Linked DNA regions of Homo sapiens. The protein of the gene in region 1 purifies or fractionates together with the protein of each later gene. This does not show direct contact. Each region holds a gene or a part of one and is shown on either strand. Other genes may lie near its edges.

Region 1 (4,710 bases):
CTTAGCATGAGGCCTGGCTCATAAAAGATTCTCAAGGAAATATCCATTTGGGAAAAAAAAGAAGTATCTGTTGAATGAATGAACATCTGTGGCACATGTAGGATGCTGATGTTGGTCCACCTTCCTTTGAAATAGGGGCATGTACTAATACTCTGCCCAGGACCCAGTAAGACTAGACCCTGTGATGAGAACAAACCCACTCGTTCCTCAAGACCCTTCCCTACTTGGCCCAAACAACAGAGCTTTCCTACCAGGCCCACATCTGGGCTCAGATACTGGATCACCTTTATGTTTAAGCCCCAGTTTACAACCCTCAACCTTGATTTTCATCAACATCTTCCAACAAGGATTAAAGGACCTGCTCACGACTTCCAGAAATCTGCCTGCGCCAAGGGGTTGGAGGAACTGTAGGATTCTTTGCAGGGAATGGACACTCCACCCTTGCGCCCCCGCAACTCTAGTGAGCTGGAAACTCTGAAGCCAGACACAGGCCCACCATCACACCATCTAGGAATGGAATGTGCATCAGACTGGGGCCTCAGTATGACTTTGAGGAATAAAGGCTCTTTTAACCCCACACTCCATGAGTGTCTTCAACCCCCCAATGTAAGATCACAAAGCTAATTATTTAGAAGTGGTTGCAAACTGGTATGTGGAAAGAGGCCCTGCTGATGTAGGGTGGCAATAGGGGACAGTGAACTGGAGCTCCTTGGGGGAAGGATACAGTCAGCATGTACCTGGCTGGCCACCCCTGTCCAATGCCAAAGCCACCAGGGAGCAGCTGAAAAGCAAGTTTCAGGGACACTCCTGGAAAATGGCTGCCAACGCAGCTGCTTACACATTCAAGCCAGGCACTGAGAACTCTGACTGTGGTCCCCACCTATCTCTTTATGCCTTCATCTTCCAGGCCACAGACACCTCAACCTCGTCTAAGGACATGTTGCTTCCCACCTCCCTGTCCAGCCACCCATCCCTCTCCAGGGATGATGGTACTGGGCTAGCCTACTCACCTCACCAAGTTACATGGGGCTCAAAACCACACCGTCGTGAAATACGTGGAAATGCTTTGCAAACTCTCAAGCCCTCTACAAATGCATCCGATTTGACAATTCTGCCAACAGATCACACGGGGAGCCAGAGGCTCCAGGCAGTGCTGAAAGATGGCCAGGCAGAAGGAATGGGCCAGCCCACCAGGGCTGAGCACTCCTGCTCCTTCCCTCTCCCGTTGGGACCTAAGATGCCAGGTGTTAAAAACAACAACACCACATACACACACACACACACACACACACACACACAGAAGGAGAGGTAGGGGGCAAATAAACCATCCCAAGTCCAGGTTATGTGGAAGAACCTCCGCCTCTCCTTATACCCCATGCATTCATTTCTGGCCCATTGTCACTCAGCCTCAAAGGCTACCACAACCACCAAGCAAGACACAAGAGCCCAACAGAATAAAACCACAAAGCTGGGGCAAAACCCTCCTGGGATACAGTGTGTTTGGTGTCTTCATTCTCAAGAGGGGATCTACTTTCAGAAGAAAGGGGAGAGAAACCAAGCACACTTACATCCTGAGCCCTTCTGCACCACCCCCCCTACCTGGGATCTCTGCAGCAGCCTGGCAGAGAGGAGGCAAGGAGGCAGTCAAGAGCTCAGCTCCAAGTAACTCCCGTGGGGAGAATCCTAGCTGCACAGGGGTACCCGTACCTGGCATTCAAATCATGCAGCCTCTCTCTGGCCCTTCCTTGCCCACCTCCTCCTCTTAACTGCCTTCCCCATCATCTCTTACTCAACAACTGGCAATGACTGCTGAGACTCCCAGTGACTGGGCACTTTCACGTGCCAAGCGCTGTGTTGGGTGCTTCCTGTATTTTTTCTAATCCTTTCAACACTGCAAGATGGATATCATTACCACCACTAACAAACAAGAAAACTGAGGCAGGGCCCAAGGTCACGCAGCTCCTGAGTGTCTAGCTGGCTAAAAGCCCATGTTCTTTCCACTACATAACACTTGAATTTATCTTGTAGATAACAGAGAGGAAAGTAAGGATGAAAGTGTTGTTCTGGGAAAATTAGTCTCTCCCCCTCCCACCCAACCCTACATGCGGCCTGATTGATCTTGTTATTAAAAGGGCAGCTTTCATCAAGTCTCTCCATTACCTACAGAATCGAGTCCCCCACAGCTTTGCCAGGCATTTAAAGTTCTTTACGATCCACTTTTTCAGTCTTACTCCCCTCATCCCCAGACTCAAACCCTCCCTCCATCCAGCCTGGCCTATCATTCCTCATTTCCCATGTCTCTGGCTTGGAAGGTTTCCTTCTCTGCCTGTGACATTAGTTCCATCAGCCAAACACGGACCGGGGCTGACGACATGCCAGGCCCTGGGCTAGGTGCTGGGGACACTACAGCCAGGACAGGGGGCTCCCTGCTGTCACAGAGCTCCAAGTCTGCCCTCCTTGTGAGGCCAGTCCACACCTTGCTCTTTCCTGGGGCCTTCTCTGATCACTCGGTGTCCCACTGCTTGGCCTCGTCCTGGATCCCCAGCACACAGGGGCTGCCACTCTTATGGCACTCAGCCACACTTCCACCTTATATGCCGGGTCTGTTTTAAGACTTCCGCTGTAATGTGTTTATTTCTGTGGGAAATGTGCACTACAGGTTCCAAACAGCATTTTAAATGGCAATTCAGTCCTCAGGCCAACCCACAAAAGCCTATTAAATATATAATCGTCCCAGAGAAGTACAGAACCTAAATAAGTGTACCTTAAAAGCTCTACAGGAGATGCCAGGAACAAACATCTGCCTCCTGCACCTCCACCCACTGTCCTCCAGGGTCTGAGCTTCAAGCGACCATCAGGGGCAGAGGCAGAGAAGCAGGCGGGAGATGGATGAGTGGGAAGAACCCGATTTACATTCAGCAGATCTGGCTCTTCTCCCAGCTCTGCCTTCACTAACTGGGTGGCCTTGAGTGAGTCCCTTCCCTCCCTAAGCCTCGCTATTCTCCTATAAAAGGAGAAGGCTGAGTTAGATCAGTTCTGAATCTCACAGATCAGCAGAATATATATATTTTTAAATATAAAATGGATTTTATATTATTAAAAATAAATTTTATCAAGAAAGGGCTTTTAAAAAGAAATCACAATATACTACAACCAGCCTCATTTTTCAAAGGGATGCTGTAACCCCCTCCCCCTCAAAATATCGTCATGTCAGAAAAATTGACAACTTTTTAAACTGAAAACATTTGCATTCATGAAAAACAAACAAACAAAAAAATACACCATTTTTTTTTTCCAGTTTGACTGCAGACCAGAAAACTCTATCCCAGCCCAGCTTCAGTCCTTGGCCCAATGCTTGAGAACCACTGAGCTAGGAGACCTAGAGTTCACTCCAGCTCGACGTTTCTCCATCCTACAGGCTGGATGGAGCCAACAGGACAATCAGCATGGACGGCCCTAGAGAAGAGTCAGCTGCAGGGATGAGCTGAGCTGGACAGCAGGAAAGCAGGCAGTCAGCGCAGGGATGGGAGCAGGGCAGCATGGCTCGGCAGGGATCGCCCTGTGCCCTAGGGCTACCTCCTGCCCCTGTGTCCAGGAGCACTTGGCAGGGAGGGCACCGCCACCCATAGCCTCTGAGGGCACAGACACCCAGCCTGGAAGCTCTTGGAACTAACCTGTCCCACGTGTTTGACAGTGACACCTTCCTCCCCAGTATTCTTTTGGAAGGCTAAGGGTTCCCAAAGCAACATTTTAAAAAATCTTTATTAACTTTTCTGATTATAAACTAATACATATTCATGTGAAAAACTTGGAATCCACAGAAAAGCATAAGCAAAGAAGCAGAAGTCATCACAACTCCACCTTCCAGAACAATGACTGTTAACATTTTGATGCACTAATTCTTCATACATGTAACTTCAGCCACCCTCAGATTTGGTTTTACATCCTGCTTTTCCCTTACTTATCACACTTGGGCATTTTTCCACATCCTTAGATATTCTTCATAAACATCATAAAATGTTTTCATAATAAACATAATATTCTGGTAAATAAAAATATTCTTTATAAACATTGCAATGGACTGAATATTTCTTCTTCTTCTTCTTCTTTTTTTTTTTTTTTGAGATGGAGTCTTGCTCCATCCCCCAGGCTGGAGTGCAGTGGCGCGATCTCAGCCCACTGCACCCTCTGCCTCCTGGGTTCAAGCGATTCTCCTGCCTCAGCCTTCTGAGTAGCTGGGACTACAGGCGCCCGCTACCATGCTTGGCTAATTTTTGTATTTTTAGTAGAGACGGGGTTTCACCATGTTGGCCAGGCTGGTCTCGAACTCCTGACCTCAGGTGATCCACCCGCCTCAGCCTCCCAAACTGCTGGGATTACAGGTGTGAGCAACTGTGCCCGGCCAGGACTGAGTATTTCTGTCATTCCCCTGAAAATTCATATGTTAAAATCCTAACCCCCAAAGTGGTGGTGTTAGGAGGTGGGGCCCTTGGTACGTAATTAGGTCATGAGGGTGGATCGCTCATGAATAGGATTAGTGCCCTTGAAAAAGGGACCCAAGAGAACTGTCTAGTCTTCTTTCTATCATATGAGAATACAGTGAGAAGTCAAGAGTCTTCTGGAGGAGGGTCCTCACTAGAATTCAACCATGCTGGCACCCTGATTTCGGACTTTTGGTCTGCAGAACTGTGAAAAATACATTTCAATTGT
Region 2 (4,894 bases), on another chromosome or scaffold:
CATTGTACAATTCTTTTTTTTTTTCTTTTTTTTTTTGAGATGGAGTTTCACTCTTGTTGCCCAGGCTGGAGTGCAATGGCGCGATCTCGGCTCACCGCAAGCTCCACCTCCCGGGTTCAAGTGATTCTCCTGCCTCAGCTTCCCGAGTAGTTGGGATTACAGGCATGTGCCACCACGCCCAGCTAATTTTGTATTTTTAGTAGAGACGGGGTTTCTCCATGTTGGTCAGGCTGGTCTCAAACTCCCAACTTCAGGTAATCCACCCGCCTCAGCCTCCCAAAGTGCTGGGACTACAGGCATGAACCACCGTGCCCGGCACCTCATTGTACAATTCTAAGAAACAAGACAGTTAACATTAGCTCCAAGTTATAAACAGAATTTTTTGATTAACCTGATCAACTTATACTTCTAATTTCTATAGATGAAGATAATTTTTTTTTAAATTATAGTTTAAGTTCTGAGATACATGTGCAGAACGTGCAGGTTTGTTGCATAGGTATACATGTGCCATGGTGGTTTGCTACACCCATCAACCTGTCATCTACATTAGGTATTTCTCCTAATGCTATCCCTCCCCTAGCCCCCAACACCCCAACAGGACCTGATGTGTGACGTTCCCCTCCCTGTGTCCATGTGTTCATTAATATTTTATTTTTGGCCGGGCGTGGTGGCTCACGCCTGTAATCCCAGCACTTTGAGAGGCCGAGGAGGGTGGCTCACTTGAGGTCAGGAGTTCGAGACCATCCTGACCAACATGGAGAAACCCTGTCTCTACTAAAAATACAAAATTATCCAGGTGTGGTGGTGCATGCCTGTAATCCCAGCTACTCGGGAGGCTGAGGCAGGAGAATCGCTTGAACCCGGGAGGCAGAGGTTGCGGTGAGCCGAGATCGTGTCATTGCACTCCAGCCTGGGCAACAAGCCCTAAACTCCATCTCAAAAAAATAATAATAATTTTGTTTAAATTGAGACTAATATCCTCAGTAAGCACAGTATTAAAGATGTAGTGTAGGCTCTGTGAACAACAGCTATTAAAGTACCATAATCTTTTTTCTTTTCTTTTTTTTTTTTTGAGAGGAGTCTCGCTGTGTCGCCCAGGCTAGAGTGCAGTGGCACCATCTCAGCTCACTGCAAGCTCTGCCTCCCGAGTTCACGCCATTCTTTTCGTCTCAGCCTCCTGAGTAGCTGGGACTACAGGCACCCACCACCACGCCCGGCTAATTTTTTGTATTTTTAGTAGAGACGGGGTTTCACCATGTTAGCCAGGATGGTTTCGATCTCCTGACCTTGTGATCTGCCCACCTCAGCCTCCCAAAGTGCTGGCATTACGGGCGTGAGCCACCGCGCCCGGCCTTTTTTTTTTTTCAAGACAGAGTTTTGTTCTTGTCAACCAGACTGGAGTGCAGTGGTGCGATCTTGGCTCACTGCAACCTCTGCCTCCTGGGTTCAAGTGATTCTCCTGCCTCAGCCTCCTGAGTAGCTGGGACTATAGGCATGAGCCACCACGCCTGGCTACTTTTTTGTATTTTTAGTAGAGACGGAGTTTCACCATGTTGGCCAGGCTGGTCTCGAACTTCTAACCTCAGGTGATCCGCCTGCCTTGGCCTCCCAAAGTGCTGGGTTTTGGTTTTTTTTTGAGACAGGGTCTTGCTGTGTTTCCCAGGCTGGAGTGCAGTGGCACAATCACGGCTTACTGCAGCCTCGACCTCCTGGGCTCAAGTGATCCTCCCACCTCAGCCTTCCAAGCAGCTGTCACTACAGGCACATGCCACCATGCACTGCTAACTTTTGCATTTTTTTGTAGAGTTGGTGTTTTGCCATGATGCCCAGGCTAGCACTGTAATCTTAACACTGCCTTATATATTGCTTATTAGATACACCTTTGTGTACATGTGTGTTGTTTTCGATTAAAATTTCCTAATTATGAGGATAAGACCTTTTATTCTTATTTCTGTTTTTTCATTTTTTATTTTTAGCTCCGACTCAGATTTTGAACGGATGTTTGCATGTATACCACAGTGCTACATTAAAAACCAGTCATGTGGATGTGGAGAAGGGTGCTGATCAGGACTCCCTGTTTGCTAACAAATTCTACAGCAGAAACAAAGTATTAAGGTTTGCAGCCAGGAAGCAAGTGCATGGGGAATAAGCCTGCAGCTTCTTCCAAATGAGACAGAGCCAAATCTTTTTTCTGAGTCTGTTTTCTTCATTTCTATTAAACCAAGGTCCTTTTTAAGCAGTCGAATTTCATCCAAAGCCAGAGTGAGCTACTTTGTTTGGGGGAACAGTAACAGTTACCTCCACCACTGACTGGCTGCCATCTGGATTGATCCGGAAAGATCCCATCTGAATGGTCTTCTTGGGGTCCACCTGGGCAATTTCCCATTCTAGTTCATCCACCAGAGCCCTGCATGCTGGTGGAAGAGGAGAGAATGAGAGCAGGGGACAGGGTAGGGGGTAGGGTGTGAGGAGAATGGGATCAACCCAGGATTTCCATTCATCCTTCTCCCAGGCCTTGGATCTCATGCCCTCCCAAGGCTCTGCTTCCTCCACTTCTTTTTCCCGTTGTGCCTTTACCTCCACAGTGGAGATCCTGGCTCCTCCGAGCCCAGGCGGTTCCCAGCAGGGCCCCCAGAAGCAGGGCCAGCCAACCCCAGCCTTTCATCTTTAGCGTAATGGGGTCGCTCCACCTGGGTTTGAGTGGGAATAAAACATAAGTGTGAGGAGCCGACTCCATTTTTCCCTGACCCCCCCAATCCTCACCCCAAGGCTTTCAAAGGCCTCATTGTGACTCTGGCTCTACTTTCCAGGAAATGGCCGGGACACAAAGGGGCTTCTCTGTTCCAGCGCTTGAGGGCTCTGATTCCCCCAGGGTGGTGGGTGGGAGCGCGAGCTCAGGACTTGCGGCTCAGCCCCAGACTCTACGTGGATAGGTGAGGCCCTAAGTGTTGGTACTTTAGCACTGCATGCCTAGGGTTCACGGGGCTTTGTGGCAGCTACAGGAGGTAAGTTGGCGATTACGTGAGGACTACAGGCACTAGGGAACTGCCGGCAGGGAGCCCTCAGTCAGGCCAGGAGGCCAGCGAGGAGAGCAATAACTAGGGCCCATTTGGATCCTGCACCGAAGATTCCTGCGTCCCCACCTCCAGCCCGTAAGTGATTACCCGTACGGACACCAGCCCCCTTTCTAAGGACTCCGCCATTGCTTTCGCTTCAGTCCATCCCCAACCCTCAGCGCCCAGCGCCTCGCCGCCCGCATCCGTCCCACCTCTGCTCCCAGGGCCGCCGCCGTGGCCCAAGCGCTGGAAGACCGCTGGACTCTCACTTTGGCCCCAGTGGCTCCCGAAACTACACCTGGCTGCAGGGAGCAGGGCTGTCCGGGATTCTCCAGAGCGCTTCGCCGCCTGCCACACACGGGGTGTCCCGGCGACCGCCTGACCCAGCTCCCCTGACGCTAACTGGTACCTAAGCGGGACTCCAGCGTGCTGCGGTGCGAGCCCCAATCAGACACCGACCCCAAACCCGCCCCTCCAAACTCTCGCGCGAACAGGCAGCTTAGGAGAGGCTCCCGAACAGCAAGGACCCCGGTCAATCGCCGAAGGACCCAGACTTGCGTGGCGAACAGATCCACGTGACCACCAGGGGTCAGCCGTAGAATAGGAGTGGCCTTAAGCGACGACAGAGTCCGGGCGTGCTGTATGGGAGCGGCTAGTCGTGCGCGTGAGCCAGCCCAGGTGGGCTAGGACCTTCAAAACGGTGCGCTGCCGGCCAGCGAGCAGTCCAGGTTTCAATACACAGGAAACTACATCTCCCAGGAAGCACCGCAGCACCGGACCCATCTTTGTGAGCAACTACAAGTCTCAAGCTATCCTGGGACCTGTAGTTTGTCGGCTTACACAATTAACGGAAACCATACTGTACATCTTCAGTCTGACTTAGGGTACTGGGCAGCTATAGCAAAGACCCAGCATTGCCCAGAAAAGGCATAAATTATACCTTTTTCCCCTTTTTTTGAGACGGAGTCTCGCCCTATCGCCCAGGCTGGCATACAGTGGCGTGATCTCGGCTCACTGCAACCTCCGCCTCCCGGGTTGAAGCAATTTTCTGCCTCAGCTAGGGTTACAGTCGCCATCCACCACTCCCAGCTAATTTTTGTATTTTTAGTAGAGACGGGGTTTCACCATCTTGGTCAGGCTGGTCTTTAACTCCTGACCTCGTGTTCCACCCACCTCTGCCTCCCAAAGTGCTAGGATTACAGAAGTGAGCCACCGCGCCCGGCCTAATTATACCCTTTCATATCCATAACTTTGGATTCCGGACCTTTACCTTCAAAGGAAGGAGAGGAAGACTGAAGCCAGAGAACCCACACTAGCAGTTCTCTAATGAGATAAATAACAAACGATATTTTATTTTTATTTTATAAAACATGCAGTTTACAACAAATTTTTAAAAAATGGAACAAAACTTGGGACAGGCAAGTGGGATGGAAGACAGATGCTTCTCAGCCATCAGCAGGAATAAATGAAGCCGGCAGCCAAGCTTTGTCCAGGATCCAAAGGCCCTTTTGGCAATGGTATTGGCAACACTGGTTTGCTTGGGCCACCAACACTCTACTTGCTGGCCCCTCCAGGTATCCCTGAAGCAGTTGGTGACTTGTGCTAAGTCTTGAACTACTGTGGTATCCTCTGTCACTGTCCAGGACTTCAATCCCTAGCCAGCTAGGAACTTACAGTTATGGTTCCAGGAGCTTCTCTGCCTGGATATTAGTCACCCAGGATATTAAGAATACCAATTACTTTCCATCTGGGTCAATTCTAGACTCCATGTCTGTACCACTGTTTTGCAAAGAATGAAGAAGGAATGAATCTGGCTCCTAGAACCTTTGCAACAATTC
Region 3 (4,190 bases), about 72 Mb from region 1:
CTTATATGCGGATTTTTTTTCAACAAATCTACTGGAAATTTTTTTGGAGGCTTGTGACAATTTGAAGAAACTCAGATAAACCACATAGCCCAGAAATATTTAAAAAAACCTTAAAAGTTAGTTATGTCATAAGTGCATTATACATAGAGAATAGTCTACTTTATCATTTACTACCATAAAATATTCACAAGCCTAGTTAAAATGTAACGTTAAAATTTATCAAAACATGCACATACAACACATGGTGTTGGATCTGCAGTTGGATCATAACTGCATAAAATTAACTACAGTACATACTATTCTATGTCACAGTTTCACAGCTATCTCTTGTTGCTACTGCAGTCTCCTCAAGTGTTGCAAGTTTGCTTAAAATGCTCTATGATGCGGCCAGGCACGTCTGTAATCCCAGCACTTTGGGAGGCTGAGGCAGGTGGATCACTTGAGGTTAGGCGCTCGAGACCAGCCTAGCCAACATGGTGAAACCCCGTCTCTACCAAAAATACAAAAAAATTAGGCATGGTGGCTTGCGCTTGTAGTCCTAGCTACTCAGGAGGCTGATGCAGAAGAATCACTTGAACCCGGGAGGCAGGGGTTGCAGTGAGCAGAGATCATGCCACTGCACTCCAGCCTGGGCAACAGAGTAAGACTCTGCCTCAGGAAAAAAAAAAAAAAAAGCTCTATGATGCTAGTTGTTTCAGTGTGAGTAGTTTGTTGCTCCAGTAAATTGCCTGTTGCAATAAAAAGTGATCTGTCTTGGTTTTTGAGTATTTTTTATCCTATTTAGTGCAATATTGTAAACCTTGAGTAACACCATGGGAGTCATACAAAATGCCACTAGAGATGCTGGAAGCATTCCCAAGAAGCAAAGTTGTGACATTACAAGAAAAAGTAGAACGCTTGATGAGTACCTTAGATGGAGCTCTGCAACTGCGGCTGCCCATCATTTAAACATGAATCCACCATAAAGACCATTGTAAAAATAAAATCAAATAAAAGGAAATTCACAAAGCTGTCACTGCAGTAGCGATACCAGCATGAAAACCTTGCATATTTTGTGAAGTGCCTTTTGTATTGCCGATGCATCTTTTATGTGAGTGCAGGATTGTACAAGACTATAGACTCTAATATGATTTGAGAAAAAATGATGTCACTATATGATAACTTAAAGCAAAAAGAAGGTGAAGAATCTAAAGTTGGAGAATTTAATGCGAGCAAACAATGGTTTGATAATTTTAGAAAGAGGTTTGGCTTTAAAATTACAAGATAACAGAGAAGCAGCTTCTGCCAACCAACAGGCTGCAGACGAGTTCCCAGAGGCCATTAAGAAAATCACTAATGAGAAAGGGCCAGGTGCAATGGCTCACACCTGTAATCCCACACTTTGGGAGGCTGAGGCAGGAGGATCTCTTGAGCCCAGGAGTTTGAGAACAGCTTGGGCAACCATAGTGAGACACTATCTCTACAAAAAATTTTTAAAATTAGCCAGGCATGATGGCACACACACACCTGCAGTCCCAGCTACTTGGGGGTGGCCTGAAGTGGGAGGATCACCTGAGCCCAGGAGGTCAAGGCTGCAGTGAGCCATCTGCAATCGAGCCACTGTAATCCAGCCTGGGTGGCAAAGTGAGACTGTCCAGAAAAAGAAAAAATTATTAAGGAGAAAGGACATCTGATCTGCCTGTACAGGTTTTTAATGAGAATAAAAGTGCCTGATTCTGGGGAAAAAAATGCCACAAAGGACATTTATTTATAAGAAAAGAGAAGCAAGCATCAGGATTTAAGGCAGGAAGGGACAGGCTAACTCTACTGTCTTGTGCCAATGCAGTAGGGTTTATGATCAGAACTGTCCTTAACTATAAAGCTGCTAACCCCGGAGCCTTGAAGGGAAAAGATAAACACCAGCTGCCAGTCTTGTGGTTGTAGAAGGTCTGGACAACGAGAACCCTCCTGGTTCCGTCCATGTTCTGTCCCCAGGGTAAGGAAGTACCTTGCCAATACAGAACTGCTTTTAAAAAAAAAAGAGAGATAGGGCATTACTCCATCGCCCAGGCTGGAGTGCAGTGGCACAATCATAGCTCACTGCAGCCTCGAACTCCTGGGCTTAAGTGATGTGACTGTGTCAGCCACCTGAGCAGCTAGGGCTGCAGGCTCAAGCCACGTGCCTGGCAGTAAAGTACCTTTTAAAGTTGTTTTGATTCTGGACAATGTCTCTCTTTGGCCACCTATGAACCCTATGAGTTCAACCCTATAAAGGTGTCAAGGTGGTTTACTCGTCCTCAAACACAACATCTCCAATTTAACCTCTAGATCGGGGGTCACAGAGGACCTTTAAGATTCAGCACACATGGCACTCTACGCAGTGGTCCCCAACCTTTTTAGCACCAGTGAGCGGTTTCGGGAAAGACAACTTTTGCGTGGTGTGGGGTCGGGTGGGAAGGTTTCAGGATGAAACTGTTCCACCTCAGATCATCAGGCATTAGACTCTCATAAGGAGTGGGCGACCTAGAGCCCGCGCATGCACAGTTCACAATAGGGTTCACACTCCTATGAGAATCTAATGTCACCATTGATCTGACAGGAGGTGGAGCTCAGGCACCTGCCACGTGGCCTGGGGTGTGGGGATCCTTGCTCTATGGAAAAGACTGTCAACCCTCATGGAGAACATCATGAAAGTCTGGAAGGGTTTCACCACTGTGTATGCCATTGTTGTTACAGAAAAAGCTAAGAAAGCTGTCAAGTCTCAAACAATGAATTCCTGCTCGAGAAAACTGTATCCAGATGTTACGCATGACTTCACGGGATTTACGACAGTGCCAATCAAGGAACTAATGAGATTGTGGATTATTTGGTGGGGGTGAAGGGTTTCAAGATATGGATCCTGAAATTCAAGAGCTAACAGACATCACACCAGAGGAATTAACAGAAGATGATTTGATAGAGATGAGTGCTTCTGAATCAGTGCCAGAGGATACGGAAGAATATGTAGAAGAAGCAAAGCCAGGAAACAAATTGACACTAGACAATCTGACCAAGAGTTCTATTTGAGACTGCTTGGCTTATTTTACAACATGGACGCTTTTATGATATGGACACTGAAACTAAACAGTAGAAGGAAGATTATTAGTACCACATAGAAGCATCTTAAGAGAAACGAAAAAGCACAAAAGTTAGGCATAAATTATGATGTATTTTTGTAAAGTTACACCAAGTGAGCCTGCCTCTCCTTCTATCGCCTTTATCACCCAAGACAGTGAGACCAACCCCTCCTCCTCCTCAGCCTGCTCAATGTGAAAGACCACCAGGATAAAGATCTTTATGATGATCCACTTCCTTACGATTTTAACATTTTCTTTTCTCTAGCTTACTGTATTATAAGAACGCAGTAACATAATACTTGTAACATACAAAACATGTAGTTAATCAATTGTTTATATTACCTGTAAGGCTTTCAGTCAACAGGAGGCTACCAGTAGTTAAGTTTTGGGGGGCTGGGCACAGTGGCTCATGCCTATAAATCCCAACACTTTGGGAGGCCAAAGTGGGAGGATCACCTGAGCCCAGGAGTTTGAGATCAACCTGGGCAACATAGCGAGACCCTGTCTTTAAAAAAAAAAAAAAAAAAAAAAAAGTGCTGGGATTATAGGTGTGAGACACCGCACCCAGCCAGTGTGTGCTTTAGCAATAATTTCTGACACTTTAAATTTATACTTAATATGCTTTTCTGTATGTATATTACACTGTAATAAAATATTTTAAAAATAAACACATATTAATAATGTTGTTTGGGGGTGCCTGTTAATCTCAAAGTAAAACAAGTTACTTCCTAAGTGATGTTAACAATATTGAATTAAAAATGACAATTTAGGAGGTGGGCAGATCACCTGAAGTCAGGAGTTCAAGACCAGCCCGGCCAACATGATGAAGCCCTGTCTCTACTAAAATACAAAAATTAGCCATGCTTGGTGGCGCATGCCTGTAATCCCAGCTACTCAGGGGGCTGAGGCTGGAGAATCACTTGCACCCAGGAGGCAAAGGTTGCCGTGAGCTGAGATTGCACCATTGTGCTCCAGCCTGGGCGACAAGAGCGAAACTCCGTCTCAAAAAAAAAAAAAAAAAAAAAAGACAACGACGACAACTGATCATCGTTGCTTAGGATAAAAAAAAGAATGAGGAAAGACCTCTGGAGTTTA
Region 4 (4,846 bases), on another chromosome or scaffold:
TCAATAAATAGGAACTATATGCTGATTACATGCCAGGCACTAGGTATAAAATGATGAACAAGACTTAACTATTTCTTTAAGGAACTACCAGTCTGCCAATTAAACAGTCAAATCAGGCCAGGTACAGTGTGGCTCATGCCTATAATCCCAGCACTCTGAGACGGTATGGTGGCATGCAACTGTAGTCCCAACTACTCGGGAGGCTGAGGTGGGAGGATCATTTGCGCCTAGGAAGCAGAGGTTGCAGTGAGCCAAGATCACGCCACTGTACTTCAGCCTGGGTGACAGAGCAAGACTGTGCCAGAAGAAAAAAAAAAAAATCCAGGCAAATTCAACATAATGAGATAAGTACTCTGACAGGAATAATGATAGAATGCTACCCTATCCACATTCGTCAGGCAGGGAGTTTCAAATGGTTGCTTAGAAGACATGACATCTCAGCTGGATCCTAATGGAAGAGGATCTTTTTCCTACCTGGCTTCAGGGTAATAGTTCCCATATTCTATAGTTTTCAACTGACTAAGCAGTTATGTTTCTGTCTTTTTTGCTCCACAGCCGTTACTATCAATAACAAAGGTTAAGAAAGCATTCTGGGACTTGTAAGTGTGGTACCCTCTTTTGTGTTACAAAAATATGAAAATGAAAACAACCAGACAGACTGTCTCTCCAAGAAGTAAATTACTCACAGTGCCTTCAGTCTCTGAATAGAGTCCTGACCAGAAGCTGAAAGTGCTTTTATCCAGTTGATAGAGTCGAGATTTCTCAAATGTTTCAGAATCCATGATCTGTCCTAACTCCGGTGGTACATGAGTTGTTGTTTTATATATCCTTCTCTGAAATATTTTAAAGAAAACACTTTAGTGAAATAGTTGTTTATTACAATAGTCATTTATGATCAAACATCGAATGGTTTATAGCTTGCCACTTATATCTGTTGAATTTGCTTTATACCTACACAAATATTGCACTTGATCAAGTACATGAAACGACTGATGCAGGAAAATAAAAGCAGAACAAGAGAACCTGAGGTGACCTGACTGGTAAAACTATAATCAGGGTTGTCATCACACTTCAGTTTGTATATGTAAACCAAAGCTGTTAACATCACAACTTTGTTACATGTACTACTCATTCTGGGTATTACATACCTCCTATAATACGGAAAACAAATTCATGCAAAGGAGAAGCACACATGCTAACTGTGAGTATGAACAGATACTGAGGCTGCTCATTAAATTTGGTCCTAAATGCCAGAAACTTGAGGATCACCAGATGGAAACATATCAGGTCTGTGAGAAAAGACCAATTTTCAGCCGGGCACGGTGGGTCACGCCTGTAATCCCAGCAGTTTGGAAGACAGGGGCAGAAGGATTCCTTGAGCCCAGGAGTTCAAGACTGGCCTGAGCAATGTGGTGAAATCCCGTCTCTACAAAAAATACAAAAATTAGCAGAGTGTGGTGGTATGCACCTGTGGTCCCAGCTATTTGGGGGGCTGAGGTGGGAGGATCACTTGAGCCTGGGAGGCAGAGGTTGCAGTAAGCCCATATTGTGCCACAGCACTACACCCTGGGTGACAGAGAATCTATCTCCTTAAAAAAAAAAAAAAAAAAAAAAAAGGAGAAAGATCAACTATCTCATTATACTAAATTATAAAAGGTAAGGGTAATTTCAGTCCAGGAAATGTAATACAGAGAATGGATACCAAACAAAATAATGGGCCACTACAACATGCTTTCCCTATATATTGTTGTGTGCCAATAAAAGCTGAGGGGAGATCGAGCACGGTGGCTCATGCCTGTAATCCCAGCCCTTTGGGAGGTGGAGGCGGCAAGATGACTTGAGTCCAGGAACTCCAGACCACCCCGGGCAACATCTCTACAAAAAAATCAAACAATTAGCCAGGCACAGTGATCCGCACCTGTGGTCCTAGCAACTCAGAAGGCTGAGGTGGAGGTGGAGGGGTCGTTTGAGCCCACGAGTTCGAGGCTGCCTTGAGCTATGATGATGCTACTGTGCTCCAGTCTGGGTGGCAGAGTGAGCCCCTGTCTCTAAATACAATAAATATTCTATCCTGGCCAAGATGGTGAAACCCCGTCTCTACTAAAAATACTAAAATTAGCTGGGCGTGGTGGCACGTGCCTGTAATCCTAGCTACTCGGGATGCTGAGGCAGGAGAATCATTTGAACATCCCTCCCTCTGCGCGCTGCTGGCAGTGTCACAGACACACTCTTCCCCTTGCAGACTCTCCCTCGTCCCTCCTAGTTTCTTGCAGTGAGCCGAGATAACGCCACTGTACTCCAGCCTGGTGACAGAGCTAGACTCTAAAATTAAATAAATAAATAAAGATTAAAAATAAATAAATAAAAGTTCAGATCTCTAAACCATGGTTATCTCAGGTAAATTGTTAACTTTCACTTTTTATTTTACCATTTTAATATTTAAACTAAAATAATGTTGATTTTATGAAAAACGAGAAATATATTTCATTTAATTTCATTTATTTATTTATTTTGAGATTGAGTTTCACTCTTGTCGCCCAGGCTGGAGTGCAGTGGCACAATCTCAGCTCACTGCAACCTCCGCCTACTGGGTTCAAATGATTCTCCTGCCTCAGCCTCCCAAGTAGCTGGGACTACAGGTGCGCGCCACCACACCCGGCTAATTTTTCTATTTTTAGTAGAGACGGGTTTTCGCCACGTTGGTCAGGCTGGTCTCGAACTCCTGACCCCAGGTGATCCGCCCGCCTCGGCCTCCCAAAGTGCTGGGATTACAGGCATGAGACACCACGCCGGGCCCGATAAGTTTTTTGTTTGTTTGTTTGTTTTTTCAAGCAGAAACAATATATGCACTTTAAGGAGAAACAAGAGTGCAAGTTCTTGGAAGGACTGCAAAATCCTATGGTTAGGCATGATTACATAAATGTCATGAGGAAGTTGGGTGTCTAAATCCTTTTAAAGGCTTATTCCAAAGATAAAGGAGGCCAAGTCTGGGCCCAAGGATCCCAAGGAAGCTGCAGGGAGGGCACAAGAGCCCAAGCCTTCCTCCAGGCCCTAAAGGGATTGGGTCCCATGATAACGTTACAGAAAACTTCCTTGACGCACCAAGACCCTCCTCAAAGCCACAGTCCGCCATCGGGCCAAGTTACGAGACTCAGCAGGGACCACAAAGACGAGACTGGCGCGGGGACCGAAGCAATCAAGAGTCTCAGGGTCGAAGCCAAGGCTACTCCAGGGCTGGCCGGGTATGGGGGTCAGGTTGGACCCTGTCTAGGCTCACCTGCCGCTGTGCTAGGAAGGTCTCCCAAAGATACACTGTCCAGGAAAAGAGCAGCACGGCCCCGAAGATACGCTTCTCGGCCGGCATCTCCCACAAAGCGTCCAGCGATGCCCACATCCCCATGGCCACCCGGTTCCGCCGGCTCCTTCAGCGTGCACCGGTGCCACACCGACACTCGTCCCTTCAGAGCGTCCCCGCGGTGTCACAGCAATATCCGTTCTTTCCGAGGGCCCCTACGCCGATACCCGCCCCCATCCCTCCCTCTGCGCGCTGCTGGCAGTGTCACAGACACACTCTTCCCCTTGCAGACTCTCCCTAGTCCCTCCTAGTTTCTACAGGAAAAGCCCCAGCCCCACCTTCCTCACTTCCGGCCCAAAGAGGGCGGGGACCCAAACGCCGAGTTCCGGGCCCGGCTGAGCTGTGTTGCATCAACATTCTTCCCCCACGTCTTGACGCTGGGTTCCGGCCTAGGGTTCTGGCTTTCCTCCTGGGCTAGTGAACGCGGCGAAGTCCTCCTCTTTCTAATCTCCAGAGCCGCAGTTCCATCCTCTGGGTCAGCGGCTTACCCTGACTGGGCTGCGGTATCTGCCTTCCTTCCCCCAACAAGGCGACAGGTAGTCGGGGCTGGGGCCGGAACTGACTGAGTGGGCCGCAACTGACTGAGTGGGCCGCGGCTCCCGCCTGAGGAGGCTAGGAAGGACTGAACAGCAGCCGACTTCCCAGGCTCTAAAAATCGTGCCTCTGAGTTAGAGCTACCTCAAAAGCAAGACCAAGCATGAGAAATGGAGTCTTTTGGCCAGTATTGGGGTGTTCGGAATTCAAGCGTATGAGAGAGTGGACGGTAGCGTTGAGAATTTTCATTTGAAGATCTCGTCTTAACCACCCCAAGTGTAGTCAGAGGCGGCGTTTTCCCTGCGAGAGTGCCCTGGAACAAAGCAAGGATAGCGTGGGTTAGACATACCTGAAATGAAAGCGTCTTACTTTATCTAGGTACATATTTGCGTCAGTAAGGCGCAACGCCATTTCTCTCTTGGAATTCAGAAGTGAAATATGGTGACTGGGACGCCTGTACATTGCTTTGACTTAAAAATTGAAGTCCATTATTCTGACCGAAAGTTAATCTGATGATTAATTGGTTAAACATACTATCGTTGCTAATTAGCATAATTATTATTTACAATAAAGTGAGCTAAATAGCTACAACTAAAATATATTTAAATTACTGTGATATTGTGATGCTAAAGATGTGTTGAAATTAATATCTTGAATTTCTCAACCCTGCCTAAATGCCTCTGAGAGTAATTAGTATAATTAAAAGTCACTAGAGAAAGTGAATGACTCTAATAACAGGATAACAAATTCTTTTCAAGTCAGATGGTTTCCAGTTCTTTGCTTTCAACAAAATTAATGGTGGCCCATGAATTGTCAGCTGATGAAGGAACACTATTTGGTTTTTGGCATGCAACTCGGAAAGAAACCAAACGATTGATTGACATGCTTACAACAAAACTACTAGCATTCTCACCTATTTATGTAAAACCATTTCTCAGCACTTGTATCTGTGAAAAC

What was found.
Region 2: the proteins of PDIA5 (region 1) and CNPY2 purify together in Homo sapiens (affinity purification with mass spectrometry; 2 studies listed by BioGRID and IntAct, with this or other methods). This does not show direct contact.
Region 3: the proteins of PDIA5 (region 1) and PPP1R2 fractionate together in Homo sapiens (co-fractionation; one large-scale study listed by BioGRID). This does not show direct contact.
Region 4: the proteins of PDIA5 (region 1) and ZMPSTE24 fractionate together in Homo sapiens (co-fractionation; one large-scale study listed by BioGRID). This does not show direct contact.

What each region holds. Positions count from the first base shown.
Region 1 is NC_000003.12:123,069,502-123,074,211, reverse strand, and holds part of PDIA5 (protein disulfide-isomerase A5 precursor), read right to left. Parts: intron 1-4,710.
Region 2 is NC_000012.12:56,312,553-56,317,446, forward strand, and holds the start of CNPY2 (protein canopy homolog 2 isoform 1 precursor), read right to left. Parts: upstream 3,437-4,894; 5' UTR 3,269-3,436; intron 2,691-3,268; 5' UTR 2,666-2,690; coding exon 2,578-2,665; intron 2,415-2,577; coding exon 2,299-2,414; coding exon of another isoform or gene 2,248-2,298; exon of another isoform or gene 1,943-2,247; intron 1-1,942. UniProt on the Homo sapiens protein: Positive regulator of neurite outgrowth by stabilizing myosin regulatory light chain (MRLC). It prevents MIR-mediated MRLC ubiquitination and its subsequent proteasomal degradation.
Region 3 is NC_000003.12:195,532,690-195,536,879, forward strand, and holds part of PPP1R2 (protein phosphatase inhibitor 2), read right to left. Parts: intron 1-4,190. UniProt on the Homo sapiens protein: Inhibitor of protein-phosphatase 1.
Region 4 is NC_000001.11:40,256,826-40,261,671, reverse strand, and holds the start of ZMPSTE24 (CAAX prenyl protease 1 homolog), read right to left. Parts: upstream 3,437-4,846; 5' UTR 3,401-3,436; coding exon 3,278-3,400; intron 834-3,277; coding exon 687-833; intron 1-686. UniProt on the Homo sapiens protein: Transmembrane metalloprotease whose catalytic activity is critical for processing lamin A/LMNA on the inner nuclear membrane and clearing clogged translocons on the endoplasmic reticulum.